2 separate regions of the Homo sapiens genome follow, and region 1 is linked to region 2. Evidence: fine-mapped expression QTL. A gene starts in region 2. The other region holds a variant in brackets. All regions are shown on one strand. Distances are between the middles of the regions.

The links. PIP is the estimated chance that this variant, and not a neighbour inherited with it, causes the effect.
Region 1: its variant is fine-mapped to the expression of SCGB3A2 in whole blood (INTERVAL, PIP 0.99).

What each region holds. Positions count from the first base shown.
Region 1 is chr5:147,898,721-147,914,184 of GRCh38, forward strand. C5orf46 (chromosome 5 open reading frame 46) reads right to left here and starts at 7,818. Exons shown (of 4, transcript NM_206966.3): 1 at 7,712-7,818; 2 at 2,909-3,053. The coding sequence starts at 7,781. The variant T/A (reference allele first, on the strand shown) is at 4,144.
Region 2 is chr5:147,872,021-147,887,484 of GRCh38, forward strand. It overlaps SCGB3A2 (secretoglobin family 3A member 2), which reads left to right and starts at 6,691. Exons shown (of 3, transcript NM_054023.5): 1 at 6,691-6,838; 2 at 9,426-9,628; 3 at 10,007-10,171. The coding sequence starts at 6,784. The coding sequence ends at 10,030. It also overlaps a transcript of C5orf46 not described here. RefSeq lists enhancers at 1,524-2,189, 2,190-2,857, 2,858-3,523.

The sequences.
Region 1 (15,464 bases), 27 kb after region 2:
AGAGAGAGAACCAGGAAAATACATCATGGAACCCAGAGGGGAAAATATTCCCTAGAATTAAGGGCTCTCAAAGGGTGAGAGGAGTTAAGAATATGTATATTTTTCAGAAAAATGATGAGCAAAATGCAGTCTAGGTAGCTCCAAGCTGATCCAAAAGCAAGTGGAGAGAACAATCCAGTCTATTCATTGTTTCAAATGCATGTCTCTAGCATTTACTATGCATCTGACACACCACTTAGGCATCAGACATATTGGAGTAAATAAAGTAAAATTCCCACCTTTATGAATCATTGTTATTCCTCTCATTCTCTCTTCCAAATCAAATATTGTTTAGTCATTCAAGGCCCAAATTACATCTTGCTTTTGCCATAAACACTTCCCTAAGCACACTGGACCCATTGAGAACTCCTTTCGCTGGAAACTGCCTGTGATCTTTGGCTGACATTTATCTTGCTACTCATTTTTATTTATGGCATTGTGCATTGGCTTAAGTAATTTTACCATAAGGACTGCAAATTATTTGAGGAGAAGGGATTAAGAGCCTAGACTATTCCTTCACAATCCGTGTCCCTGCTTTGTACATGTTAAGTGCTTAGCAATACTTTCTGACGTCTCCTCCTATCCTCCACCCCCTATTTTGCTTATGGTCTTCCCTTGAGCAGGGAGTTATGGGTATGTTTTAGATCCTGGCTCTACCACCCGCAGATTTATCTCTTGAGCAGATATTGCTGTGTCTTTGAGCAAAGATCCTTCAGGATTTCTCAGTCAAATTGAGGTAGATGGGCTTTAGGTCTGATCTGCAAGATATCTTTCCTTAATTAATTAATTCAAGTGCCTGACACTATATGCCATGTACTGTGCTCTTGCAACCAGTCAGGTGATTTGGTCTCTACTTTCACTTAGCTACTTGATTAAAAATAAATAAGTCATTTCGGATGGTAACAAATATTATGACACTGTAACAAGGTAAAGTGATAGAGAATAACAGGCAGTGGGAATGGAAGAAGACAGTATTAACAAGAATGGTCATAGAATAGTTTCTGAGGAAGTGACTTTTAGATTAGCTGTAAGCTCAAGAACTAGTCATTAGAAAAGGAGAGTATTTTAGTAAGGAGGGAGAGCAAGGGAAGAGAGCCTGAGATGGTAATAATTTCTAGCAACAGAAAGAAGGTCATTTACTCAGAATGTAATGAGGGAAAGGGAAACCAGTAGATGAAGGGCCATTTCTGAGCCTAGAGCGGACAGCAATTCTTTAGCATATCAGAGAGTCGACTCTTATGGTTAACACAGAGAAAAATGTCCTATTTTATACTTGGAAAATTCCCTAGGGAAGGAATGAAAAGAACTCTTAGTGTTCTAACTCCTTGTTTTGCTGTGTGGATGTAACAATACTAATTCAACTGGAGTCTAATCTTTAGTTTGTATGTAATGGGTGGTGCTCCTATTGTCGGCCTATGACTTTCCTTCTTGTTTACATTAACAGTCTTGGAAAAATAACAGTTGCAAAAGCAACCACAGTAGGAAATGTAACAATTAAAAAAAAGCACCTGTGAGTTTTAACAATTTGTGGAGAAGGATTGCCTGTAGAACACTGCCCAATCAGATGACAATCTATCCCTTTAAGCAGATCAGAGATTACAAAACCCCTGATTACTCCTACATGGAAGTGGTTCTTAATCTGCTATTGGTTAAAGACCCCTTTGAAAATCTAATAGAAGTCATGAACACTTTCCCCGGGAAAATGCAAAAATAAATAAATAAATAAATCACACTGACACAAAATATTAATAAAAATGTAAAGGTTTTGTGGATCTTTAAGGCCCATCCATGCAACCCAGAACATCTGATCAAGGCATGGCTTTTGAAAATTTCTGTATATCAGAATTACCTGAAAAGCTTGTTGAAAACCATATCCATGGCCTTGTCCCCAGAAAGATGCAAAATGGGATGCAGAAATCTGCATTTTTAAAAATAAATTCCCCCAAGGGATTCTGTATCAGGTGGGTATACCACACCTAGTCAAACTCTGCTTAAGGATCTATATGGGAGAAAATTAGAGAGCAGAGGCTTAGAGCAGTGGAAATTGAAAGCACCTGGAAATTTGGAAGAGTGAATTTCATCTTGGAGAACTGAAATTTGGGAGATTAATATGGGGAGAATAAAGCATACAGTGTAGTAGTGTCAAATCAAAACTATGTAGGCAAAAATAATATGTATTGGGAATTAGACACAGGCTTGGAAGCAGGCTGAGAACATTGGGAAGACTCTGGGATTGGTGATCTGCCCGAAGGCAGTCTCTCATGATGAAAACCAACACTCATGTTGAGAGGTTCTCTAGATTGTCTTTAAAGAGAGGTTATCTACTGTCTCTGCTAACCTTCTTGAGCTACTCAAGCTAGAAAATATAGGCAGGACTCCTCACACCCATCACTAACGAACATATCACTACCTCTTACCTTCATCACGTAATCACAGTGCTTACAAGGGGCGGGCCATCTATTATTTTAACTTCACAGTTAAAATATGAGCAAATAGAGGCCTTCAGAGTGGGAGGGCCTTGTTCAAGACCACCTAGTAAAATAGCAACTGAGTTAGGATCAGAACTTGGCTTTTTGTTCCTTAGTCTAGTGTTCTTCCTCCTCCCTATTTGCTCCTGAGATTAAAAAGAAAAAAAAAAAAAAATCCTGTATGGAACCACTTGATGGGAATGTCCTTTCCCCCAAAAAGCTCAGGGCAGTTGATTCAGATGCAAAATATATTTTAAGTAGGGCAACATTTTTCAATGAAAAATAACACATTTACTTATGCCACAAATTTTGTTTCTCATGTATTTTAATGCCATGAGGTCATTGTGTGGTCATTATCAACAGAGAATTGGACAAAAAGCAACGTTTTTCTCAGTGCTTACGTGCTCCTGGACATGGAGCGGAGGATGAACTCGACTGCATTCTCAATGATCTCTGTGCCCAGGAGGCTTAGGAATTTGGGGAAGTCTGGCTTTGGGTCTTTGCCCGAGTCGTCTGGCTTGTCGTCTGGCTTGTCTGGTTTGTCGTCTGAAAAACAACAGAATCTCAGAGGTGATTCTCAGCAACAAAGAAGGAATCATTCTTTCTGTGTGGGGAACGCTTGGGATTCTTTCTGACCCACTCACAAATTTCATAGCCTTATATGGTTATATTCATCGAACATTTAATGCCTGTCTGGATAAAATCTTCACATGCATTGTCTCATTTATTTGTAAAAACAAACAAATAGACCGACTGATATTGATACTTAGGTAGACACTGGCACCGCCTGGTGAGTGAGAAAACCAAAGTTCCCAGAAGCTAAGTACTTATCTCAGAGTTAAGCAGCCAGTAAGTGCCAGTGCCAGGACTGACATACAGAATGTCTGTTTTTCCATATGATCTCCATGCCCATGGTAATAATAATATTAAAGATAAATTATCAACTGGGTGAGGTGGCTCATGCCTGTAATCCCAGCACTTTGGGAGGGTGAGATGGGAGAATTGCTTGAGGCCAGAAGTTTGAGACCAGCCTGGGTAACATAGTGAGACTTCCATCTCTACAAAAAGTAAAAAGTAGCCAGGTGTGATGGTGCACACCTGTAATCCCAGCTACTTGGGAGGCTGAGGCAGGAGGATCTCTTGAGCCCAGAAGATAGGGGCTGTAGTGAGCCATGATCGTTCCACTGCACTCCAAGCCTGGGTGACAAAGTGAGACCCTGTCTCTGAGAAATAAAATAAATAAATAAAAATGAAATATCAATGGGTAACATTTGTTGAATACATGCCTATGACGATCTACATGGATTGTCTTATTTTATCCTCATAGCAATTCTACAAGGTAGGAACAATTATCCCAATTTAAAGGTAAAGTAATATAATTTGAGAGATGTTTAGAAACTGGTTGAAAGTCACATAGTTAGTAAGTGGCAGAAATACAATTCAAACCCATGTCAGTTTGGCATTAAAATTTGGATTCTAAAGTACTCTATGATGAGCTGCACAGTCTTTGATGGAAAAGTTATGCAATTTGCACTTCTTTTAGAAGATTCAAAATAGTATAACAATAATGATGACAAAGCAATTCTATCCCTTGCATATCACCTAGTAGTTTCATAAATAGTGATTTTACAAATGT[T/A]GTGTAATTTTATCCCCTGAGCAATCTTACAGAGTATGCATTTTTTAGCTCACTGAACTGAAAAGTGAAAGGATTAAGAGGCTTACAGAAGACCTCATAGACAGTAAGAAAAATGCTAAGATGATAACTGCAGGCCTCTTAACACTAGATTCTTAAGGGCCCATTGGAATGAGGGCCAAGGATCCAGAGTGAGGTTGATTATATTCAAGGTCCCTTGGGGGCTTTTTGACTTTGCTTGATTGTCTTTATTCCCAGGAGATGAGAAGAGATGGAAGAGTGACAGTAGCTACATGTGGTCGCCCCTCTGAGCCCTGGTCACAGGATAAAGTGGGACCTTTATTTTTTAATTGTATTGTACCCTGACAAGTAATGTTACCAGACTGGGTACATAAAAATACAGGATGCCTAGTTAAATTTAAATTTCAGATAAACAACAAATGCTTTTCTGGTACTATAAAAAAGATCCATGCAATAATTAGGACACCCTGATGCTGAAAGATTATTCATTGCATATCAGAAATCCAAATCTAACTGTGTTTCTCGTAGTTTATCTAGCAACCTCAGCACAAGTTTTAACTCAAGAAGTCCCAACTTCTAGACAATGTACCCCTGACTTTGGATAAAGGAGATGTAACTACCTTTTGTGTGGAGGCTGCCAAATTATGTCAGAAACTTTACATCTATATTATATCCTAAAATGGAAACTATTAGTAAAAAAGATTGGCAGGCAATTCTATGAGCATTTATTGTTTACTATGACACAACTAAAGATTTGATAGAAGCACCAGTTTGGGACATATAACCAAAATCAATATACTAATCATCACCTATTCATATATCCAATGATTGGTTCCTTCATTCAAAAAGTATTTTTGGGCCTACTTTTTTAATGTTTTATTTTTGAAACAGGGCTTCACTCTCTCGTCCAGGCTGAAGGGCAGTGAAGTGATTACAGCTCACTGCAGGCTCAACGTCCTGGGCTCAAGACATCCTCCCACCTCAGCCTCCTGAGTAGCAGGGACGACAGGCATATGCCACCACAGCTGGCTAATTCTTGTATTTTGTGTAGAGACGGGGTTTCGCCATATTGCCCAGGCTGGTCTCGAACTCCTGGGCTTGAGTGATCTGCCCACGTCGGCCTCCTGAAGTGCTGGGGTCACAGGTGTGAGCCATCCTGCCTGGCCTGAGCCTACTATTATGTGCATAGTTATGCTAAGAGTCAAGGTAAAAAAAAAAAAAGACAACTGTAGATATGACCTTCACATAAAGTGCTGGGCAACCCAGGTACTCAGAAGGATTGGTTTGTTTTTATTGTGGGAAGGAGGCGGAAGCGGAACTCATGTGTAAGGTGCCTATCGTGCAGGTACTCCATCAGTGCTTTCAGCACATGCCTTAATCGTCATTTAGCTCAGCAGTGGTATCACAGTTACAGCAGAGAAGACAGATGCTCAGGAAAATTAAATGACTCACCTGAAATCACTCATCTAGAAAGTGGCTGACCCAGGGTTTGAACCTAATTTTTTTTAACTCCACAAAGCACATTATTCACATTGTATAATACAACCTCCAAACAATTGTTCTGTAAAGACATTTGCCAAATGCAAAGCAGTAATTTCTTGCATGAAAGATGAGATTTTTTCTCCTGTGTTTCTATCTGGCTACTTGCATAATAAATTCTATTGACTTGTTATTTTAATATGACACTAAAACCTGGCTTTTCAAGATGCAAGAAGCCTGGGATTGGAGTGGGCGGAAATCAAAATCTTGGCCTTAGCTTGTGAACCCCATATATATTGAGAGGTATTAAAGTGTGATGGATTGCATGCTCTGGAGTTTTATAGATCTGTCTGATTCCTGCCTTTAACAAAAAATTAGCCATGTAAACTTGCACACAGTGCTTAACTTTGCATCTCTCAGTTTCCTCATATGTTGTCAGGATTGAAAGATATTTTATATATTATATATCTATATATATATACACACACATACATATATCTATATTATATATACATACATATATCATATATATACCACTTATCGTAGTACCAATCCCAAGATAAACTTACCTTATATAAATAAATAATAAATGAAAGAATGAATAAATAAATGTTATCTGTTTTATTGTTACTATTAATAATAATAGCAGCAAAATGATTTATAATTCACTTTCTCCTCTAGTGCTTTAGAAGATAATATAAATTTTAAAAATGCTATTAAAATATTAAACGATTGATATCCTAGAAACAATCTTCAAAGTCAATAGTTTAATATTTTCTTTTTTCAAGTATTATATGGGATAGCCTTTATTTACAGTAACTACTTTGTTGAGTTTCTTAGTGAATGTGAATATAATGTTCTTAATAAACAGTATTGCTGATATTTGTAGAGTTTTAATAGTTTACAAAGTAATTAAAAAGCATATTCATTTGACCTGGTGAAGTTGATAGTTATCCCGTTTTACAGATAAAGAAACTGAGGTTCAAAGCAGTGAACGATTTAACCAGTTTCAGAGTTTATAAGAGACAGGGTGGTGCCTGGTCTTGGTATCAAATCTCTCCTTTCACTTCACTGTAGTGATTTCTTTAGGAGTAGAATGGACTGAATAATATCCGTGGCCATGTCTAGAGTAATTCTGTTGTAATGTCTGTCTGTGTGTTCTTCAGCCAAGTTACATTCAAAGGATTCTGTCACTAAATGTTTGCACTCCCTCTGTTTTCTGGTCTATCATTCTGAATGGAGCTCACAGACTTTTGCAGACAAACAGTAAATTAATTAATGAGAAGGCAGCATACAGCATGAGCTTCTATGTGCTTGGAAAAGGTGGGAAAGAAATAGTTGCTCGATAATAGTAGAAAGAATCTAGGAACCTAGGTTTCACTCCCAGATGCCACTTTCACCTGTATGTATGCTCAAGTAACTTGCCCTCTGCAACCTGTTTATTAACCTGCAAAAAGGAAAATGATAAAACTGTACATGTTTACATCATTGGATTACTATGAGAACCAAATGAGATTATACATGACAACAATAGCAGGTAGTATTTATTGCATGCTTACTATCAACCAGGTACCCTTCCAATTTGTTTCATTCCTTTTATTTAATTTTCATGATAACTTTACGAGAAAGTTAAATGTCCCCATTTATATGTGAGGCCTAGAGAGATTGAATAGCATTCCTAAAGTCACATTTCTGGTTAGTGGTAGAGCCAGGTACAGGAGTTTTATTCCAGAGTACATATTCTTCACCAATGAACATTATTAGGAATAATTATCAAAAAATAAATGCCAGTCAGCTCCCATGGAATTTATACTAGAATAGTGTCATTATATCATAAGAGCACATAAAAAAATTTCAAACTTCATACATCCACTGAAAATAGAGGCTAGGTTTTTATTAAAATTCTACTTTCTTTGTGTTAGAAGATACACCTCTTGTCTCCCAGGCCAGTGCTCTTTCTGGAGTGCCCAAAGACCCCTTCTTTCTTTTATGTTCTGAATCAGTGCCATCAGCTTTCTCTAGTCACTGCTAACTACTGAACAATTCATGGGCTGTGATCAGAAGCACTTACCTGCATAGCAGGTCAGGAATAAGACAAGCAGTCCCAGGACAACTGTCAGGCGAAGTACTGAGACAGCCATTCTGGTAGCACGGGGTATTCGTGCAGATAAATTGTTCAGATACATGTGAAACAATGCTCCATTTATAGGGCATAGATAGGTGACATCATCTGCTTTGGAATTTAGATTGTTGCACAAGATGTCTGCACAGCTTGCTTTTGGATCTGTACTAATGAGACATACCCTATCATTCAAACCAAACATTTTACATATAGGGAAAGAAAAACCCTCTTGATTTTTAAAATTTGTATCTATAAAGGGTTCTGGAGTGAATCTCTTGAGGCTAGTTTCAAGGCCAGCATTGATAATTAAAGGGATATCAGGTAGAATTGCTCGTCAGTGCCAAGCAGCAGGCAACAAATCAGATTGGCAAGGCAAGCCTACACCCTCCCTTTACACTCTATGCCTTCCCTCGTGCTCTGGGACAATCCCTTGTTCCCACATGGGCATGCCCTTTCACACCCCATGCGTCTGCTCTTGCTCTTCCTTCTTCCTCAGATACCCTCCTCCTTGTCTCCCTTCGGATCACTCCTACGTATTCCTCAGTTCAAATGGTCCTTCTTTGTGATACCTTCATGATAACCACTCCACCCTTCTCCAGGCAGTTTGTTACTTCATCATCTGCCCTATAGCACACTTGACCCCATTGTATAAGAACTAAGTGTTGGCTGGGCGCGGTGGCTCACACCTATAATCCAAGCACTTTGGGAGGCTGAGGTGGGCGAATCACGAAGTCAGGAGTTCAAGACCATCCTGGCCAACATGGTGAAACCCCGTCTCTACTAAAAATACAAAAAATTAGCTGGTCGTAGTGGCAGATACCTGTAATCCCAACTACTTGGGAGGCTGAGGCAGGAGAATCGCTTGAACCCTGGGAGGCGGAGATTGCAGTGAGCGGAGATCACACCACTGCACTCCAGCCTGGGTGACAGAGTGAGACTCTGTCTCAAAACAAACAGAAAACGACAACATAAACTGTCTTATTTATTTTACTTTTATTTTTCTCTTTTTTTTCCATCAACTTTTATTTGAAGTTCCAGGCTACACATGTAGCCAGCAGGATGTGCAGGTTTGTTACATAGGGAAACATGTGCCATGATGATGATTTGCTGCACAGATCAACCTGTCACCTAGGTTTCTTTCTTTCTTTTTTTTTTTTTTTTTTTTTGAGACTGAGTCTCGCTCTGTTGCCAGGCTGGAGTGCAGTGGCGCGATCTCAGTTCACTGCAACCTCCGACTCCCTGGTTCAAGTGATTCTCCTGCCTCAGCCTCCCTAGTAGCTGGGACTACAGGCATGTGCCACCATGCCCAGCTAAGTTTTGTATTTTTAGTAGAGACAGGGTTTCACTATGTTGGCCAGGATCATCTCAATCTCCTGACCTCGTGATCTGCCCGCCTCAGCCTTCCCAAGTGTTGGGATTACAGGCGTGAGCTACCGTGCCTGGCTGGCACCTAGGTATTAAGCCCAGCATCCATTAGCTATTCTTCCTGATGCTCTCTTTCCCCTTGAAACCCTGACAGACCCCAGTGTGTGTTGCTCCCCTGAATGTGCCCATGTGTTCTCATAGGAGAACTAAGTGTTTTAACAGCTCTCTTCTCTTTCAGCTTGTGGATCCACTTATTTGTTTATTGGCAAAATATTGTACATATTCGTGGTGCACAATATGATGTTTTGAAATATGCATATATTGTGCAAAGGCTATATCTGGCTATTTAATACCCAGACTACTCATACTTATCTTTTTTTGTGTGGCGAGAACACTTAAAATCTGCTCTCTTAGCAATTTTCAAGTATACAATACAATGTTATTAACTATAGCCACCATGATGTAAAATAGATGTCTCAAACTCATTCCTCCTATTTAGCTCAAATTTTATATCTTTTGACCAACATCTCCCCAATCCCTCCCACTACCCAACTCCCGGTCTCTGGTAACTATCATTCTACTCTTTGCCTCTGTGAGTTCATCTTGTTTAGAGTCTGCATGTAAATGAGATCATGTGGTATGTATTTGTCTTTCTTTGTCTTTCAGTGCCTGGTTTATTTCATGTAACATCATGTCCTCCAGGTTCAACTGTGTTGCAAATGATAGAATTTCCTTCTTTTTTAAGGCTCTATAGTAAATAGTATTCCAGTGTATACATATCATGGTTTCTTTTTCTATTCACCTGTTGATGGACACTTAGGTTGATTCCTAGCCTGTAGGTCTCAAGAGAAGAATGTTTTATTACTGCTGAATCCTCATGGAGCCTACTCTATTGCCTGGTCTTGGTCTCACCTTTGACTTCACCTCCTCTGAAAGTTTGTTCCGGTTTTTCCAAATAGAGATAGATGATCCTCTGATGTACCTGCTAGGTCCTTTTTAAATGTCTTTACCAATAGGCTGTAGGCTTCTCGAAGGCAAAACTATCTTTTTTAGAGTTGAATACATATTAACTGAGGCACATGGCAAATACCAAAACACATACATACACACACACACACAAAACAAAACAAAACAAAACAAAACAAAAAAACAGCAGCAGAAGAAAAAATAATCTGGGAATTGATTAAGACCAGTCTTTCTCCCCGACTGCCAGACTCCATTGCCTTGGTCTCTATACCCATACCCATCACCATGGTTCCCCTTGAATAAAGTCTACCTTACCATCTTTTTTTTTTTAAAAGAAATAATTAACTGGATTAAATATATTTGCACTTGGTGAAACAGAATGTTGGATTTGAGATGCTGCTATGTATTTCAGATGTAAAATAATCTCCCTTTGCAATACACGCAAGAGAATAAAGTTTGGTTCAAGTCTAGATGATATTGGTTATCCTGAGGAATGCTATAAATTCATTTAATTGGAATGTGGACTTGGGAATACCTAAACTTATTGATTTACCAATACTTATACTTTGCATGTGTCAAAATACCATTTTATAAATGGGAAAGTTAACTAAAGTATGGACAAAAGGAGGTTCATCCAGCATCTCAGAGCCAAGGCTAGGGCAATGTTTCTTACTTACTAGTTATACTCTTCACAAGGCACCAAACCACTTCTGGAACATAATCAGGCAGCTCTGTTGCACCTTGTGTGGTGTGGCCTTCCAAGGCCTTCCCAACGTATCTTCTCAGGAAAACACTGGTCTTGTCTCTCTTGCACAAAGGGTTGAATCTAGACTCTAGACTCTAGATCACCACTGTTTGTATAGGACAGACAAGGCCAGAGTCTCTAATAAAATCTAGACATTAAAAGGCCTTCATTGAGGTAGATTTATGTCATCAGGGTCACTACTGATGACTGAGCACTGTGATTGTCCAAGAGGCTAGTAGGGGAATGACATTCAAGTGTCCTCTATCAGTTAGGCCATGGATCCTGACACATTGCTGTGTTTGCCTGGGAAAGGGTACATATTTTTCTAATCATCACAAGGGCACTCTATAGATAAGAGCAGGCTGTAGATACAGCAACTTAAGACAGAAATTTGCTGGCTTCTTAGGAATAGCAGCTGGACAGGGCAAGCAGACAAATCCTAAATCAGCTGCTTTTGGAGGTCTGGTGTCAAAAAGCTAGCACTGTCCTGAGTGTCAGGATAGCTGGCCTCGATTCCTGTCAGTAACACTAGCTCATTGCATGGTCCTGATTCAATACCCTCCGTTTTCCCTGCTTCTTGTTCTTATTCTTTCTCTCCTCTTGGTTTGTTCCTCATAGCTTCAGGTCTCAGCTAAAATGTCTTGTCTTTGGTGAAAACTTCTATGACTCTCTAATCCAATTCAGATCCCTATGTGATTAAGTTTTCTACACTCTGTATTCTTTCTTCTCAGCACTTAATTTTTGATGATTTAATGTCTCTCTTTCCAAGGAATGTTAACATCTCAAAGGGAAGCATTCTGATCAGTCTTGTTCAGGGAGATGGCTTTGCTGTCTAGGATAGTGCTTTGTTTGTAAAAGATACCCAACAAATATGCATTGAATCAATGAGCTAATAAACAATTCTGAGAAGAGGAACCAGGTTCTTTTGGTTATTATCTGTGTGACTCTGGCAAATGACAGGTACCCTGTGGGTCTCAGTTTCTACATCTGTAAAGGGACATAATATAAATTTCTGCCTATATATCAGCACCATTGTAAGAATATAGGAGATAAAAATGAAACACCTGATAACTGTAAAGAGCCCTTAATGTTGGCCGTATAAATAACAGTTAAAAAGCTGTGATTTATCTTCCATTGCCATAAACAAGTGAATTTGCTTTAGGTTAGATGAGAAACTGAGATTATGAAAGAGGGTTTTATCCAAGCTGGGAAGAAAAAGAGAACCTTCTTCTACAACACTATTCTAGCTTGGGAAGAAGGTATAGGAATGAAGGAAATAAGAAATGTTTTAATTCCTACAGACTTTTCCAGACTTAATTAAAAATCATCTGAGTGGTTTTTTTTCTCAAGGTAGAAAAGAATTACAATTTGGGTTGGCAATCTCATGGAGAGATTTCAATGTATGCATTAGTGTTAAAAGCACAGGTTTTGGGATCACACAGAACTGAGTTTGAATTTCAGATTTGCCCCTTACGAGCTGTGTGACACTGTAACCTTAAGATATTTTTAATTTCTCTGTGCTTTGGATCCAGTGTCCATAAAATAGGAATAATGATACCTCTTGGTGTTGTTATAAAGATTAGATAAGAAAATTTGTAAAACTAGCACAGTGCCTTGCAAATACTAAGTGAAAAATAAATAATAAACTTGTCTATTCTATTCTATTCTATTCTATTCTATTCTATTCTATTCTATTCTATTCTATTCTATTCTATTCTACATTGAGTTGTCTTAGAGGAGGGAGAGAGACATTTTAGGACCACCACCACCACCACCACCACCACCACCACCACCACCACCACCACCACTAATAATAATAATAATAGGCTGCCTCCTCTGGTCAGGTGCTGAATTAGATACAATGTATCAATACAATTGTTGAGAGGCTACCATTTCCTCATTTTATACAAGGAAATTTAAGCTTAGAGGAGTTTTCCCAAGGTTACAAATTATATACGAGCCAGAGCAGGGAATTGGACACACGAACGTGTGATTCCAATGTTCCTGCTTTCAGCTATTCTGTTAAGTTGCACTGGCATATGCTCATGGTTGCTACTGGCAAAATGCCTGGGCCAAGCGAGGAACACCATGTTACCAACCTGTTTGCCCACAGATTCATCTGTGCCAACTCTGCTTTTTTTCATTAGCCTCTGAATAAAGTTCTGGCCTATTTCATTCACTATATTTTTGCTCAGTTTGATATAGCAAACATGCAGTTTACACGGTGTCTTTTTTATCCTCGGCAGAAATAGGACTGGAGATAGGGCTGTAGGATAAAATACATGATGCCCAATTAAATGTGAATTTCAGATAACAATGAGGAATTTTTTAGGATAAATATATACCAAATATTTCACAGGAATTCTTATACTAAAAAATTATTTGTTGTTTAGCTGAAATTAATTTTTTCTTACATTTTTAGCTGAAATTTAAATGTAACCGGGCATCTGGTACTTTTATTTGTGAATCTACCTGGAGAAGCCCTCATAATTCTTCTCTTATTAAAAAACCCGTGATCAGGGAGTGCAGAATAGGACTGAGAGAGGTTACATAAAGGATTAAAGAATAGTATGTGAGAAGTTGAAATCAAATGAGGAAACTAGAAGTCATTAAAGGGCTCTAGTTCCTCTTTAACATCACATCTGGAATATGTTTCCTCCTTGAAAGCCTCATAAAGAAATCATAAAACCCTCTCTTGTTCTTGGTTCATTCCAGCTAAAGTTTCAGACTAGTCTTGGAAGGGATGCATGTGGCTTCAGCTAGGGGTGCCATTCCCATGGTGTCTACATGCTAAGGAGTGGTCACACTCTTTGTTACCCTAATCACCTTCCTCTATGTAGCTTATACATTAGTCAATCTTCATGCCATAGATCCATTTAACAGTTACTTTTTCAGTGAACATTTATTTATTGAGCTTATACTATTTGCCAGGTACTCTGCCAGACACTGGGGACAAGAAAATACAAAACAACAGTCCCTGACCTACCTTTGTTGAGGAGGCAAACACGTAACCAAATAATTGCAATTTAAATATGAGAAATGCTAATGGAGTTGTGAACAGATTCCTATAGAAGACTAACAGGGAGTGGTTAACGTTGCCTGCGGGAGGGGGTCACAGACAAATCATTGTTTGGGCCTTGAAAAGTGATTGTGTAGGTGTTTACTATGCAACCAAGGTGTGGAGAAGACACCTCAGGTAGGAGGAATGACATCTGTGAAGACACAGAAGCATGGAAGAGCATTGCATATTTCTAGGAATGAACCTCAAATTCTTCAGTGTTATTAGAAGTGAAGATTGAAGTGAAATAACTTAATCTCAAAATTTGTTTTAATTAATGAGCATGTTGGAAGGAAAAAAATGGAGGGGAAAGAGAAGAGAGAAGGAACAGAATGTTTGGGAGTGGAGAGTAAAAAATCATTAAGTATTTAAACTCTTAGCTAGGAATTTTTTCTCTCTTCCTGTTCCCTAATTAGAATTTCAGATAAGGACATTGCCATGCATCAAATTATGTTAGAAATGTGAATTTTCTTTACCTTTTATTATCACAGAACCGATTTTCTCACAAAGTGCTATCAATTTTCCTCTTAAATATCCTTAAAATTTATCAACTTCTTTCACGTCCACAATAAGAGTCACAGTTTGGGGCTTCGTCTTGACTCTTGCAGTAACAATCTAAAGTCTCTCTGATGTTTGCCTCTCCCCATTCCAGGCTGTCTTCCACATTGCTGCCATTTTTATCACTCTATAACATAATTATGTTTACATCCTCTGTCATTTCTCTAATAATTTCTGTGGCTCCTGATTGCATATAAATAAGGCCTTTCATACTTCTTTCACAATCAATATCTCTAACTTCACTTTAGGAGTAGTATAATTTTAATGCATGAGTTCTAGAGTCAGGTAGCCTGCATTCAATTTCTGACTTCACCAGGGCTGGTATTTACTGGGCATGTACTGGGATGCTCATATCCAGTCTACTAGGCTGGGTTGGTGTTTGCACCCTAGTTGTTGAATAATTTAATATCTTCTCAGCTGCTAACAATGTGATTTGGCAGTTAGCTTATACTCTCTAAACTTTAGTTCTCTATCTTCAATATAAAGATAATAAAAGTATCAGTCCCAAAAATTTTAATAAATCTGAAATAAAATATTAATGAAATAAATAAATTATAAATGAAGTCATGCTATACAAAGTTTAGCATCATGTATGTTTAACAAATGCTGACTATTTGCATTATCGCCTCCCACCACTCTCTAACCATGTTACCTCCTGTTTTACCTTACCAGGCATGCTCCAGAACTTGACTTATTTTATCACTCTACTTGTTCTGCTTGAACCAATTCATCCCCACCAATTCATCCTTCAAACATTAAATCCTTCGGAAAGACATTGTAACCACAACCCTGACTTAATCCATGGTACAATTAATCACTTTTCCTGTGTGCTCACTGTGCACACATCTCTATTATATTAAATCATGAGTTATTGTTTATATATCTGCCACTGCCATTAAGTTACGAAAGCATTCTTTGCATCATTTCAATTTTGTTAAATTTGTTAAGGTTGGTTGAATGACTCCATAAAGTCTATCCTGATTAATGTTTCCTCTGCACATACTAAAATT
Region 2 (15,464 bases):
TTGGCACCAGAGTTGGGGAGTTTTAAGAGGTTTAGAAGCCTGGCCGTCAATACCTACAACAGTTATGGAGGCAAGGGAAACAGGCCCTTGAAAAGAAGGTAATGTGGAGTGGGTAGCTTCCATATTGATTAACACGGGGACGGACTTACCTTCCAGTGTGAGAGTTACCCGAAGCTCCGCGTCCGTGATGGTCTAGGGGGCTTCCGAGGTGATCGGGCAGTGTCGGTCTTCAGCCGCTAAGCCGAGAAGGAGTCAGAGAGACTTAGGCCAGAGTTCCGGGGGCTCTGCGAGTGGCTGCCAGGTGAGTTGAACAGTCCGATTTCCAGAGGGGTCCTACACAGATGGGACACGGCTTAGGAGGAATCCTGGGCTGCAGGCATTCCTTGGCCTGGTGGTCAGATTTCTGGCACTTGTAGGAAGCTCCTGGGAGAGGAGGTTCTGGAGGAACACCTGGCGGCTGCGGTTCAGGTGTTTGGAAGTTCTTGTGTGCTGGAGATGTGGCTGGGGTTTGTCTCACAGTGGAGGCAAGGAATTGCAACTTTTTTCTATTATTGTACACCTTGAAGGCGAGGTTAATTAAATCTTGTTGTGGGGTTTGAGGGCCGGAATTTAATTTTTGGAGTTTTATTTAATGTCGGGAGCAGATTGGGTAATAAAATGTATATTAAGAATAAGACGGCCTTTTGACCTTTTAGGGTCTAGGGCTATAAAGTGTCTCAGGGTTGCTGCCGAACGAGCCATGAACTGGGCTGGGTTTTTATATTTGATGACAAAGAGCCTAAACGCTATCTGATTTGGGATAAAGAAAAAGGAGCATTAACCTTGACTATGCCTTTAGCTCCAGCCACCTTTTTAAGGATAAATTGCTGGGCAGGTGGGGGAGGGCTAGTCACAGAAGGAAACTGTAAGCCGGACTAGGCGTGAGGAGGGGAGGCGATAAAATGATTATAGGGTGGAGGAGCGGAGGCTGAGGAAGAATTGGGACCTAGCTCGGCCTGTCGAGGAGGGGAGAGGTCAGATGGGTCTGTAGAAAAGGAAGATTAGAAAGACTTAGCGACGCTTGGGGTTGGTACTGAGGGGACAGGCGGGAGGGAAAGAAGGAAGATTTGGGTCAAGTTGCACTGGACACAGAGACTAGGAAGGGACTGATGTGTAAAAGAATGCCTGGACGTCAGGCACCTCAGACCATTTGCCCATTTGACGACAGTTTGTATTGGGGTCAAGCGGCATTGCAGAAGAAAATAAGACATTTAGGTTTTAGGTCAGGTATGAGTTGAAGAGGTTTTAAATTTTTGAGAACACAGGCTAAGGGAGAAGGAGGAGGAATGGAAGGTGGAAGCTTACCTATAGTGAAGGAGGCAAGCCCAGAGAAAAGAGTAGAGACACGGAGGAGGGGTTGCAGGGGGGTGGTTCTTGCCCTCCAGAAAAGCAGAGAAGGGGTAGGGGCATGGAAATAAGGGATTGGGGCACAGAGATAAGAGGTTGGGGTGTGGAAATAAGCGATTGGGGGTTCTTGCCCCCTAGGAAACTGGGACTTGCCGCTAAGGGTGAAGGAGAAGGGGTTGAGGGGTACTTGCCCCTGCCCCAGGAAAGCGGGACTTGCCGCTAAGGGTGAAGGACCAAGGCAGGCGTCCCTGCGTGGTCTGACACCCTTGAAACGTGAGTGTAAAATCAGAGAGGCGTCCCTGCAATGATTAAACACCAAGGGAAGGCTGCCTTCCCAGTCGGTGACCGGTGCCGGAGTTTTGGGTTCACGGATAAAACATGTCTCTTTTGTCTCTACCAGAAAATGAAAGGAATTGAAATTAAGATAAGGGAGAGACTGAAGTGTGGCGCCAAGATTGAAAGGAGAAAGAGGTTGAGGGATAGTGAGGGAGGTTGGAGAAGAGAGTAAAAAGAGGCCGCTTACCGGATTTGAAATTGGTGAGATGTTTCTTGGGCTGGTTGGTCTGAGGACCTGAGATGGTAGGTGGATCTTTCTCACGGAGCAAAGAGCAGGAGGACAGGGGATTGATCTCCTAAGGGAGGTCCCCCGATCCGAGTCATGGCACCAAATTTCATGCGCGTCCGTGTGAAGAGACCACCAAACAGGCTTTGTGTGAGCAACATGGCTGTTTATTTCACCTGGGTGCAGGCGGGCTGAGTCCGAAAAGAGAGTCAGCGAAGGGAGATAAGGGTGGGGCCGTTTTATAGGATTTGGGTAGGTAAAGGAAAATTACAGTTAAAGGGAGTTTGTTCTCTGGCGGGTAGGAGTGGGGGTGGCAAGGTGCTCAGTGGGTGCTTTTTGAGCCAGGATGAGTCAAGAGAAGGAATTTCACAAGGTAATGTCATCACTTAAGGCAAGGACTGGCCATTTACACTTCTTTTGTGGTGGAATGTCATCAGTTAAGGTGGGGCAGGGCATATTCACTTCTTTTGTGATTCTTCAGTTACTTCAGGCCATCTGGGCTTATACGTGCAAGTCACAGGGGATACGATGGCTTGGCTTGGGCTCAGAGGCCTGACAGTAGCCCCACCCAGGAGTTGACTCAGTGCAACAGGGCAGCTTCAACTCTGGTTTCATCTCCAACCTAACCAATCAGCACTCCTGACTCACTGGCCCCTCACCCACCAAGTTATCCTTAAAAACTCTGATCCTTGAATGCCGGAGGAGACTGATTTCAGTAATAATAAAACTCCAGTCTCCTCCACAGCCAGCTCTAAGTGAATAACTCTGTCTCTATTGCAATTCCCCTGTCTTCATACATTGGCTCTGTCTAGGCAGCAGGCAAGGTGAATCTATTGAGTGGTTACAGTAACAATACCATAACAAAGGCACAAGAAAAGGCTACATGGCTGTTTTAAAATGTAGATTCTATTCTTCTTGTGAACAGATCAGGAGTTGACTGCTGTTGAAAAGAGATTTTAGTGTGCTCAGATCCCAATACAAGGGGCCATGACACACCATGGGGCTGGAGGCACACGGGAAGCACCAGGGTTATTCAAGAGACAGATGGAGTGGAGGAAAATGTGAGCAGGAGTCTTTATTGTGGTTTCTGAAGGAAGACAGGAGAGATGGGGTAAGCAGGTTTTAAATGGGCTAGTGTGAATAATTTTGGTGGGCTCTGGGATCTTGGGGCTGTCCCTAGTTGGTCATGGGGTGATTAAGGCATGGGAATAATGGCCCACAGTGCACAAGCCCAATAAAGGTCGTTGGGGCTTTGGGCTCTGGATTGGTTAATTTGCATATGAAAGGCATGCTCCTGGTGATATCTCTAGGAATTAGCTAGTCCTGGGAAGGGCAGTCCTTTCAAGGTCAGCAAGGCCCCAAGGGGTCAAAACGTTAAAAATACAGAATTAAAAGACATGATTAATACAGTGGCTCAAAACATAGGAAGCCCAGAAGTGAACAAGTCCAAGTATGTTTTCAATTCTGAGCATACCCCCAATCCACTTGTTGTCTTTCACAGCTTTCTATTTGCTTCTTCAACAGCACTAACCACTAGTGTTTTCTGTTTGTTTACATGTTTCTTGCCTGTGTATCTCACTACATTGTCAGCTCCAGGAAGGCAAGAAATTTGCTTGTCTGGTTTTCTGCACTAGTCCTAATTGCTGACACAGTGCCTGAGACACAATGGATACTCAATAAACATTTGTTGAACAAATGAGTGAAAACAATAGTGTTTGATGGTTATCTGTGTATGCATAATATGATTTGCATGTACACACACATACATACTACTATTCATATATGTATATGTATGTGGATATTTGTGGGTGCTTTTGAGTTGATGTTTTTCATGTACATTCCAGTCAAGACTGCATGGCTGGCTGACTACTAGATAGACCCAACAGAAATCTATTTGCCCAGGGGTCTCAGGAATCTCCTGGAAAGAACTTGCCCTCTAGGACCAGCAGAGAAGCCTGATACAGTACCAATCATTTCAGAGGTTAAAAGAGAGAAGCATTTCTGCATGTATAATGCTATATTTCACCTGAGGAGGCCTCGGTCCTATCCCTCATGGATTTATAACTTGGCTTTTATAAGAAGTCAGTTTAGAAACTGGAAAACCTATTTTTTATTGAAAGCGCTACAATATTTTAGGATGCTGTGTCAGTCAGAGTCCAGCCAAAAAGTTAAAACCATACCAAGTGACCACACAGAAAGAATTCAACATGTAGGGTAATTTACAAAGTGCTAGAAATGCAGTTAAAGCAACCAAGCAGAAGATGAATCAACTCTGAGATTAGAAAATGCAGAAAGTTGTTACTCCTTCTAGGTCAGGAAGGACAGTGATGAGAAGGTGGGGTCTAGGAGCTGGGGCCATGCAGTAAAAGCTGGAACAATGTTGGCCTGTGTGGCACAGGGGGAACCACAGATAAAGGACCTTTCCAAAAGGAGATGAGCCTTGGAGAGGGTGCAGCCACTACCCATGATAGCTCCTGAATTGGAGAGAGGGAGACATATCCCTTCTCCTTTTCTCTCTCTCTCCACTCTTTCACCTGTGCCTTCCCCTGGCTTAACTTAATCAGATGCAGTTGGCAAGGAAGCCTGGAAGCAAGGAAGCCTGGAAACCACATTTTAAAAAGTCAACTTTCTATAATACAGAGCCAGGAATGAAAGTGAAGAGAAAGGATTTAAAAGCAAGCAAACAAATTTGAGGGCAGCACTGGTTTAGTATTCCAAAAGAGACCATAATAAAAAACTAAAGGGCGTCATTGTGGCAGGCTGGATCTCCACAAGCAACCAAGTCTCCATAAGCCCTTTGCTGTAATGATGAATGTGTAAGTTAAACATTGAAGAACTAGAGAAACTGGTGCCTGAGTAGGAGACCTGGAATGCAGAAACAAACCCGTTAAGACCCTACCTGGGCTTTCTCATCCTCAAACCTGATTGAGTGATAAAAGCATTCATGCACATACAAACCATACCAGGACCCATGTAAAATTAAGAAACTTTCCAGCCCACAGACCACTAGTTAAAGATTAGATTTAGGCTAAGTAGAAATACTCCTGCATATAGGCATAGAGCTTGAAATTCATTTATATATACTAAAGGAAAAACTCATAACTTTTAGTTGGTCTGGTAAATTACTCCGACCTTCTCCCTGTGGCTGGTTACAAAAATAAACTCGCTTCTTTCCCAGTTCACCTGTATCTCATCATTGGACCACGAGAGCAAGCAGCTGGACCCTGTTCCTCCGGCAACGGCATCAATCTTACCACCAACCTTGGCTCTTTGAGGGGCTTGGTATATTAATATCACTGGCATCAGTGGGAATATGTGGGAGAAATGGAAGCAGTACTGGTAGAGAAAGAAGGAGAAGTGGCAGGATTGAGGTGCATGGCAGGCATTCATGGTGTCTTTCATGTAGTTTATAAAGTAGTTTATAAAGTAGCAGAAAGATAAAGAAATGACAGTTACAACATGGTAACATAAAAATTAGTAAAATGTGACATAAATTAGATATTAATTTTGGTTTGGCATAGCAGAATGCTCTGTCTGCATAATTTTATTAGATCTTCATTACAATACCACACCCTCAGATGAGGACAAATAAAGCCCCAACCTCTGGCCTTACATCTTAAGGTGTGTTTTCTCAAAATTTTCTGGGTTCCACTTTGGTGGTGGGAATGGCTGGAGCCAGCAGTACCACGTGGCCGGGGAGCCCTGAGCTGGTCCTGTGCCCATATGGACTCCGCTTTCTATTTCACCCCTTCATGGTTCTTTCTTACCCTCTTCCTTGCATGTCGGGCCCACTCGATGCCCCAAAGAACTCCAGGACTTCTGCTCACAAATGAAGTTGTCCTGAGGTCCTGTGGCTGAACCCTGGATCCAGAAAGACAGCCTTGGAAACAAATTACTACTCCTGTAGCCAGTACCTTACAATTACGTATTTTTGAATGATTTTATCGGATTTGATTGCCAAAGAATCTTGCAAAAACAATTTTTTCCCCAAGCTACACACCTTATGGTTGGTTGTGTTATTTATGTTCCCATTTTAGATGAGAGGACCAATATCCTAGATTAAAAATGTCAAATCCAAGATTACACAAACAGTGAAAATTGAATCCCAGGTTTTTCAAAAGACACTCTGATTTTAGATCTTAAGCCTATTATTCTATCCAAAGGCTCAGAGAAGACATGCTCTGAACATACTCAAAGTAACTGACACTGGAAAAGGTAACAGAGGTGTGAAAATCTTACCATAGTAGATGTGTGAGTGGGCTGGGGGCAGGTGAATTCCAGAGAAATGTGGCACTAAATGTCATGAAGCTGACTCTGTATTATACCAGAGTGGCCTCCAGATTGCTTTCACAACTGGGTAGTTCATCAGCTAATGTGATTCTCCAAACTTTAAATGATTAGAAAACTGGGGAAAAATGTAGAAAACCAGAGGAAAACACTCCTTCTAATCCAAATATAAATTCTTCACTTCTTTTCAATGTTCTTCCAGGAGAAGGATTCGTTGGGCTCTTTGCCTTCTGCTTTTATTTCTGTGCAAGGGTTTATGCAAGAGGTACTTGAGAATGCTGTACTGTAGAGCTTTGTTTCTCATGGGAACACACGGGGAAGTGGAAAACCCTCCAAATTGTTTGGTGAGAAAACATAACATTTATCCCTTTCTTTGGTGGGGTGAGTCAAGTGGTAGGGACTAGAATTCAGGTCCTCAATGGGCATATAAATATGTGTGTGCAAAAGCAGCCATCACACTTTGTATGGCAAGTGGAACCACTGGCTTGGTGGATTTTGCTAGATTTTTCTGATTTTTAAACTCCTGAAAAATATCCCAGATAACTGTCATGAAGCTGGTAACTATCTTCCTGCTGGTGACCATCAGCCTTTGTAGTTACTCTGGTAAGTAACTGGAATACATCTGGAATATGTGACATTTCTTTACTTTTCTGTTAATAAGAGCACAACTAGTAAGCCTTGCCTCACTGACAGTGGAATATGGTGGTAGGAATTGTATTTTTTTTTATTTTACTTTTAACTGACACATAATAATTGCACATATTTGCAGGGTTGGAAGAAGTTTTGGAATCACAGAAAATGGTGATGTTGGAAAGTATTTCAGATCCCCACCATCTAAGCTCTAGCCCAATATAAGTATTCTAATACATCCTACATAGGAAGTTAGCCAACTTCCACGGAGGGTCAACAAAGCACATTTCACTGCTGGATATTGGTCACCATTCGTTTTTCTTATTTTCCTCAATTTTGAGTTAAAATTTGACTTTATAATTTCTTTTGTGCTTTTGAACTATATGGAGTCATTCTTGCTATCATCTCCAGTTATCCAATTTGCTAGCTTGGTTCTCCTGAGATAGCTACATTCATCTGTTTATCCACTCAATGGATATTTATTGAATGGCTACAATTTGTTGGGCACTGGATAGGCATTGGAAGATTTAGACATGAAGCAGTCATAAATATTGTTCTTAAGGTGCTACTCTGGTAGGATAGATAGGGCTTCTGCCTAAGTTACTATAATTCTAGACTACTGTAAACGTACTGTGAGATATCCAGATAGAACTCTTTTAGTGTATTGGTGGGTGATTAGTTTAATTTTCAGGTAAGGGTATAGAAGCTGGCTTCTTGGAGGAGAATGGGAACTGATTTATTTTTTTGGAAGGAATCATTGTAACTATCAGGAAGACAGTGTGGGCACATGGGAAAAAGAGATTTCATGATAGCCACTGCTCATTGAGAGAACAGAAGGCTTTGAAGATCTTCTCCCAGGAAGCTGTAAACACATACAGAGAAGATATTTACCAAAATGTCTGAAATAAGAAGTATGGAGATTAATAATGAAAAATTGATTGCCGCCCACACCTACAATGGCAACTTTGGCTTTTGATGTTTATTGAATTTCTGAAGGAATTTGTAACTTCACCAGTTTTGGATATTTCACTGTTCTCTAATGTCCAGGGACAGGTATCTATGGGCAAAGTGGCAGCAGAAAGGAGGTGGGGAAAATAAATACCGCCCCCTCTGGGTGAGAATTTTGGAGGGACAATAGGTGATTGAAAATTTAAAAAAATATATACAGGCTCCATTTTAATAATTTGAATGGGGAAATAATAGGTTTCCAAAGGAAAATAAACTATGGCAGGTCTTAGCCAGTAGGAGGATGTGTGTTCTTACGTGTGTGCTCACATGCATGTGTGCATTTATATATCTGCACATGTTTTTGTAAAAAATACATCGTACATATTTTCCTCAATCTCTACTTTTTCCCACCATTCATCTTCTACGGGAAAGTTATCTTCCTAAAGCCAAAGATATAAAACGTAATTTTCCTATGTAAAAGCCTTGATAGCGCCCCACTGCCCTCAGGAAAAAAAAATCCAAACTCCTTTGTGTGACATCCAACACTTTAAAAAATCTGACCTCACTCAACTTTTGCAGCCTCACTCCCTTTATCTTCCATCCTTTGGTCATAGCCTATTGGAAATCTGCACTCCAGCCTTCTGGGCAGAAGGCTCACCATCCTGTGTATGCACTTTTATCCTAATGGTTCCGTGCCTTTATTGGTCATGTTTCTAAAATGCTTCTCCTCTTCTTTACCTTATGATCCTGACATTTGCCTCAAGACATAGCTCTAACAGCACTTCTGGAAAATTCCTGCAGCACTCTTTCATGTTAGAATTAGTCATCCCTTTCTTGTGTTTCCATGGAGCTTTGTCCATAATGTTAGCATAGCACATGCTACACTGTGGCATACACAGATCTTCTATCACCAACTGGACTGTGTGAAGTCTCTGAATGGGCATCCTTGTCTTATTTGTCTATGTATCTGCACAGACTAGATAGAGTTGGTGCTCAATTATGTTTGTAGCGTTGAGTTGAATTGGTTGGGAGCAGTTTCTTGGGCTGTGGTTGGGTCCATTCCTGTCTTTATGTGGAGATTCACTATAGCATCTCTCCTTTAGCCTCAAAGCTGTGAGCTGTGGAGACAGTCACATACAAAATACCATCGCCTTCAGACAATCACAATGATCTGTTGAATGCTTACGCTGCCAGGGTCAGTTGTAGGCATGGGTGCATTAGCGAAAAAACACACATTCCTTGTTCTCATGGAGCCTCCATTCTAATGAGAAAATAAAGACAATAAAAACAGCAAATGAAGAGTTGCTTTTTTTAGGTAATGGTAAGAAAAAATAAATGACGGAGAGTGACTATGGCCATTGCAGGCTTCTCCGAGGAGGTAATATTTGAAGAGAGACCAAATAATGTGAGAAAGAAAGGTAAGTAGCTAGCTAAGGAAAAAAAGTTCTAGGGAGATGGAACAGCAGGTGCAAAGGGCCAGAGGTAGAAGTTTTCAATGGAAGTAAGATGAGTGGATCTGGAATGGAGCTATTGATGGACACAGGGAAAGAAGATGAGGTCATAGTCTGGGCCCAGATGTGCCTGTCTCACCTGGTTTCTCTTTTTCCTGCAGCTACTGCCTTCCTCATCAACAAAGTGCCCCTTCCTGTTGACAAGTTGGCACCTTTACCTCTGGACAACATTCTTCCCTTTATGGATCCATTAAAGCTTCTTCTGAAAACTCTGGGCATTTCTGTTGAGCACCTTGTGGAGGGGCTAAGGAAGTGTGTAAATGAGCTGGGACCAGAGGCTTCTGAAGCTGTGAAGAAACTGCTGGTAACCACAGCTTGGGAGGCTAATCTGCCAAAGGGGAGGCATACTCACCCTGAATGTCTAGCTCCTCTTCTTGTCCCTTGTAAATGTGCATTTCCACTTTACTGATTATATTCATAGGAAGTTTGCACATCCTGGAATCTCAGGAAAAATACAATTTCTACATTTCTGGGAAGGGTTTTTGAATGATAGTGACATGTGTTATAGTTGTGACAATACCATTTACCACCTTCGTGATTTTGGATGAGACGTAATCACTCTGAGTTTTTGTTTCCCCATCAGTAAAATAGTGGCCAAACAGGACACTGGAAGTGAATATGTTTTGAAACATGCGAATTACATGTAAGCTGCTCTAAATTTTGTTGTCCTTCTACATTTCAGGAGGCGCTATCACACTTGGTGTGACATCAAGATAAAGAGCGGAGGTGGATGGGGATGGAAGATGATGCTCCTATCCTCCCTGCCTGAAACCTGTTCTACCAATTATAGATCAAATGCCCTAAAATGTAGTGACCCGTGAAAAGGACAAATAAAGCAATGAATACATTTTCAGTCGTCCTATTTTTATTTCTGGGGACTCTATTCAGAAGGACGTATCCAGATTAGTTTTCCCTTGGTTCATAAACTCGAGAGAGCCTGTTTTTATAAAGAAAACCTGGAATCTTAAGTAAGACATAATCATTCCTTCTCCTTTCCTTATCTCTAATTTAAACATCTCTATTTTTCCCAAATGTTTTATCTCACGGTGTTTTCAGACCCTTCACTTTCCTATCCCCCATCCTAAATAAATTTTTACATTTAAAAAATGAAAAAATAATTTTCAAAATATTGTCTGATAAGACTAGCATCTTACTAACTTCATTGGTTTGGCTTCTGTTTCACTAGAATGCTAGTTCTTAAGTTTGTAGTTAAGCTATGGCCACTCAATAGCTTTCACCAATCCTTCCACCAAGTTAGGCCTTTACTACATCATCCTTAGGCAAATGGGTGATGAACTATCTTTTCTTTCCTTTACTCTGTCATCTACAGTGATGACAGAATTATCTTTCCAAGGAATTATTCTGGTAATATCATGACGGCCTGTAGAGCAGATTTCAAGCTTCTGAGCATGGCATGCAAGGCTGTTCATGATCTGGCTTTTGGTTACACGTCTAGTCTTCTTATCTACATTCCTTTCTTCACATGCGCTCTACTCCAGCCACACTGAACAGATAACTAAATCCTTTTCCCTCTAACACTCTTACACCTTAATGAAAAATCAAGTTTCTTCCTACCTAGAATGTCTGCCACCATCGACCTTCAGACCTGGCCTGTGTCAGTCTTTGGACTGTTTGCTGTCAGGTCCATTTCCTCCACTTCCCCTGTTCTGCTCTGCTCTGCTCTGCTGTGTGTTGAGGCAGGACAGGAAACATGATACTGATTGCTGCAGCTTGCATTTCTCAGGTTCCCAAATCAGCTGACATTTGGGCTAGGTTCTGCCCCTGGGAGGCGCAGGCAGTAGATAGGAAGTAGGAAAAGAGGAAAACTATTGTATGACCCTTTCTGGCTCTGTATTAGGGAGAAGTCTCTGGAAATGACTGTACCACGTCTGAGCTCCAGGTCCTGCTAGATAGGCCTGCCTTGGTCCCAGCTTTTGCTGGGTGAGTCCAGCCTCTGGGCTCTGGTTACACCACCTCCTTTCTTTTTCTCTCCAGCTGAAGTTAGTGGTTTCCTCCTGTTGTCAGTTTCTGGGTGCCTTACCATCACCTACTTGACTTTTAGCTCTTCTAATGTCTATTCAATCAATTCTTTGCATTACATTCCTTCTGTTGTAAGTACTTTGAGTAGTTTCTGTTTCTTAATTGGTTTCTGACTAAGATGATGTTAAATGTTATCTCTAGGGATATTATCTTAATTTCCTTCCATTGCTTGACTTCCATTTTTTGGCAACTAAAATAGCTTTCACTCTGTGAAATTTCCTACTTTATTTCCTTATTTTACCTATGCCTATAATGATAGATTAGGTTGCCCAGCTGCAGTAATAAATAATCCCAAATCTCAGTGGCTTACGTGCACAGTGTGTCACTTGTTCCTCACAGTATGTGGCCATCTTTGGTTGGCTGTAGCTATGATCAATGTTTTATGAATTCTATACAGGAGCTGATGGAATAGTCTCTCTTGTGCATTTTGCTTATGTTTACAGGGAAAGAGAACTTGGTGAACAATGAGCTAACTCTTAAAGCTTCTTCTTAAAAGTGAAGTATATGACTTCCAATCATGTTTAATTGGCCAGAGCAAGTCATTTGACCATGTTTGACTTCTTTAGGAAGGGGATGTATAATTATCCTATAGGAAAGAGCAGTGCCAAATATGATTAATGTAATGTAATTGACCACATTACTTGATGACTTCAAAGTAATTGTCACCTTAGATGACTCTCATACTTGCAATTTTCTTTTCTATTGAATTACATGCCATCTTTCCGCCTACCTTAGTTTTCTGCTATTTGACCACTATTTTTCAGTTTCTTTAAATGGCCCTTATTATTTTTGACTTCCCTTGGACATTGATACCTCCAAAGATACTAAACTTGATTCCCCTTCTATTTTTACTCTGTGTATAACCTTTATTGGAGAATCTTATGTACTACCATGGACGCCAATATAATCTTTATGTTAGGAACTCTAAAATCTATGGCTACAATCTATACCTTTTTTTTTTTTTTAAAGAAGAGATTTAGTTACCTATAAGACACCTCCAAGGGATGCTCTTTTTTAGGTTCAACTCAAACATTTTTACCTGAACTCATTGTCTCTCTTTCAAAACCCACTCCTATGTTTTAATTTGCTATTCAGTTTACAGCACAGACATTTTAGTGGTTGCCTGAGACAGAAACTTGGGAATAATCCTAAGTACTCTCTGTCATCAGCCTCCTTTCTGATTGGTAAGCAAGCCTTATCAACCCTTTTCACAACTATTGCACACATTTTTCATGATCACCACTGGTACTGTTCCTAAAACTTACTTTCTTTCTTTCTTCTTTCTTTTTTCTTTCTTTCTCTCTCTCTCTCTCTTCTTTCTTTCTTTCTTTTCTTTTTTTGAAGTGCTATAGTGCCATCACAGCTCACTGCAGCCTGGACCTCCTGGGTTCAGGTGATCCTCCCACCTCAGCCTCCTGAGTAGCTAGGACTATAGGCACATACCATCATGCCTGGCTAATGTTTTTTGTATTTTTTTAGATACCATGTTGCCCAGGCTAGTCTTGAACTCCTGGGCACAAGCGATCCTCCTGCCTCAGCTTCCCAGAGTGCTGGGATTAGAGGCATGAGCCACTGTTCCCAGCTGCAGATCTTGTCATTTCCCTTCAAACTACTGTGTTAATCTCTCAAGTGACTTTTGTATTCCCAAAGGTCCCCTTCTAATCCATCATCCATACACAGAAGGAGACTTCCTAAAATACAGGAATTATTCCCCAACTTCAAATTCATCCATAGTTTTTTAATGCTGATTGAAAAAAAAAGAGTCAGACACTATGTTAAATCAATAGACACATTAATAATATAAGTTTAAACGTATTTGTTTTCATACTTATTTCAAAGTCTCTTTTCTAGACTGTCAAGTTAAATGGTTAGTGACTCTAATGTACATGTCTGTATCCTCAGCACATCGCACAGAGCCTGAAGATAGTCGGTGTTGGTTCTGTTGAATAAATGGGATTGTTTCTGTTAAGTTGTATCTGATTGGGTTGGCCCCTTTGTTTTGTTCCACTAGTCATATTATTAAGCCTTTCATTGCTCTCTCTCTCCCAGTGTTTTGCATATTTGAGAAGGATGCCTCTCTATGTCTTCACTAAGGTATTAAATGGAAAAGATTGGGGATAAAGTTCTCTGCCATTGTACTCTGAGTAATAGCAGTAATCTGACAGTTTACTGGGTTGGAAGGTTTTTTTTCCAGGGGTGTATCAAACAGAGGGATTAAGAAGGAATCTGGGGACAAATTATGTTTGGGAAGGCAGGCAGAAACTGATGATAAACATTATCATAAAAGTGACAACACCAAATGCTGGTGAGGATGTAGACAAGCTGGATCACTCACACATTGCTGGTGTGAAAGTAAAACAGTACAGCTACTCTGGTAAAATAGTTTGACATTTTGTTAAAAAACTAAACATGCAACTACCATAAAACCCAGCAATTGTACTCTTGGGCATTTATCCCAGAGAAACAAAAACTTATATTTATGCAAAAACCTGTACACAAATGGTCATAACAATTTTATTTTAGTAGCCAAAAACTGGAAACAACACAGTTGTTCTTCAGTGGATGAATGGATAAATTTTGGACATCTTTGTAAAGAAATACTATTCAACAAAAAAGGAGAACAAACTATTTATATACACAGTAACCTGGATGCATCCTTAGAGAATTATGCTGAGTGAAAAAATGTCAAACCCCAAAGGTTAAATTTTGTATACTTTTATTTATGTAACATTCTCAAAATGACAAAATTATAGAAATAAAGAACAAATTTGTAATTTCCAGGGGTTAAGGAGACGATGGGGGCAGGAAGGAAGTGAGTGTGTTATATAAGAGCTGTATGAGAGATCCTTATGAGGACAGAAATATTCTGTGTTTTACCTGTATCAATGTCAGCATACTGGTTTTGATGTAGCAGCATAGTTTTGCAAGATACTACCATTGGAGGAAACTTGGTAGAAAATATGCTGGATTGCTCTGTATGATTTCTTAAAACTTCATGTGAATCTATAGTTATCTTAAAAAGTTTAAAAATTATTTTAAAGATCATCAGAATATAGAAATATATACATATAATTATCATATAATCATATGGAATATAATTAACATGTTATATATAATTATATACAACTATAATTATGTATAACTGTAGTTACATATATGCATATATGTAACTTTCATTCTCTTCATCCATAAATTCCACAAATTAGAGGAAACCACTGTTCACATTGATGTGCTTTTTTCAAGACATTTTCTAAATATTTACAAACATACATGAATGATACATTGCACATATGAATGACATATGCCTTATTTAAATTGTTATCTATGTGAATATTAATTTAATTTATATAATGTATATTATATTGTTTCTAATATCTAATTATATTTTTTGTTATTATAAAAAGTGCTATAGTGAGCATGCATATTTTGCATACATTTTTGTCTTTATGTCTTCAGAAAAACCTTGAAAGTGGAAATGCAAGGTCCAGAATTACATGGTGTCTAAAATTTTGATAACTAGTCACACATTTCAATGGGGAAGAACAGTTGGTATCTCAGGTGACTGAGGTCGGAGAAGTGCCATTTCCAAAGATGGGATTAGGGACCCAAGACAATGCCTAGGGTATGATTGTTCTCCCTAAGCTAGCTGTAAATCCCTTTTTATTATGTGCTGGAGGGTCAAGCCATGCAAGGTATGAATTATATGATTTCTTAGTTTCATGTCTAAGATAGGCAGTACAACCAGACAGGTAAGTACAATTTATTTGCTACATTATTTTTTATTTTAGAAAGCAACCAGATGAAGAGCTCGCAGGCTATTGAGGCAGATTAAAGACAGCAGAGGGCGCTCATTATTAGCAAAATCAAGGAAAACATTTGTGTATATATGCAAGGTAGATAATGAGAAATATCAGCACCTTCTATTGCATTAAATTTTTCACTGGGGATTCACAACTAAATGGCAACTACCTGATGCTCCCCCTTTCTAGTAACTACCTCTGACTTCATTTCAAGCATTGTTAAATGGTGCATTCTTTGTTCTGTCCTTAACTCTCTCATTATCAAATGAGAACTTGTTTTCTGATACTGACAATGACCAT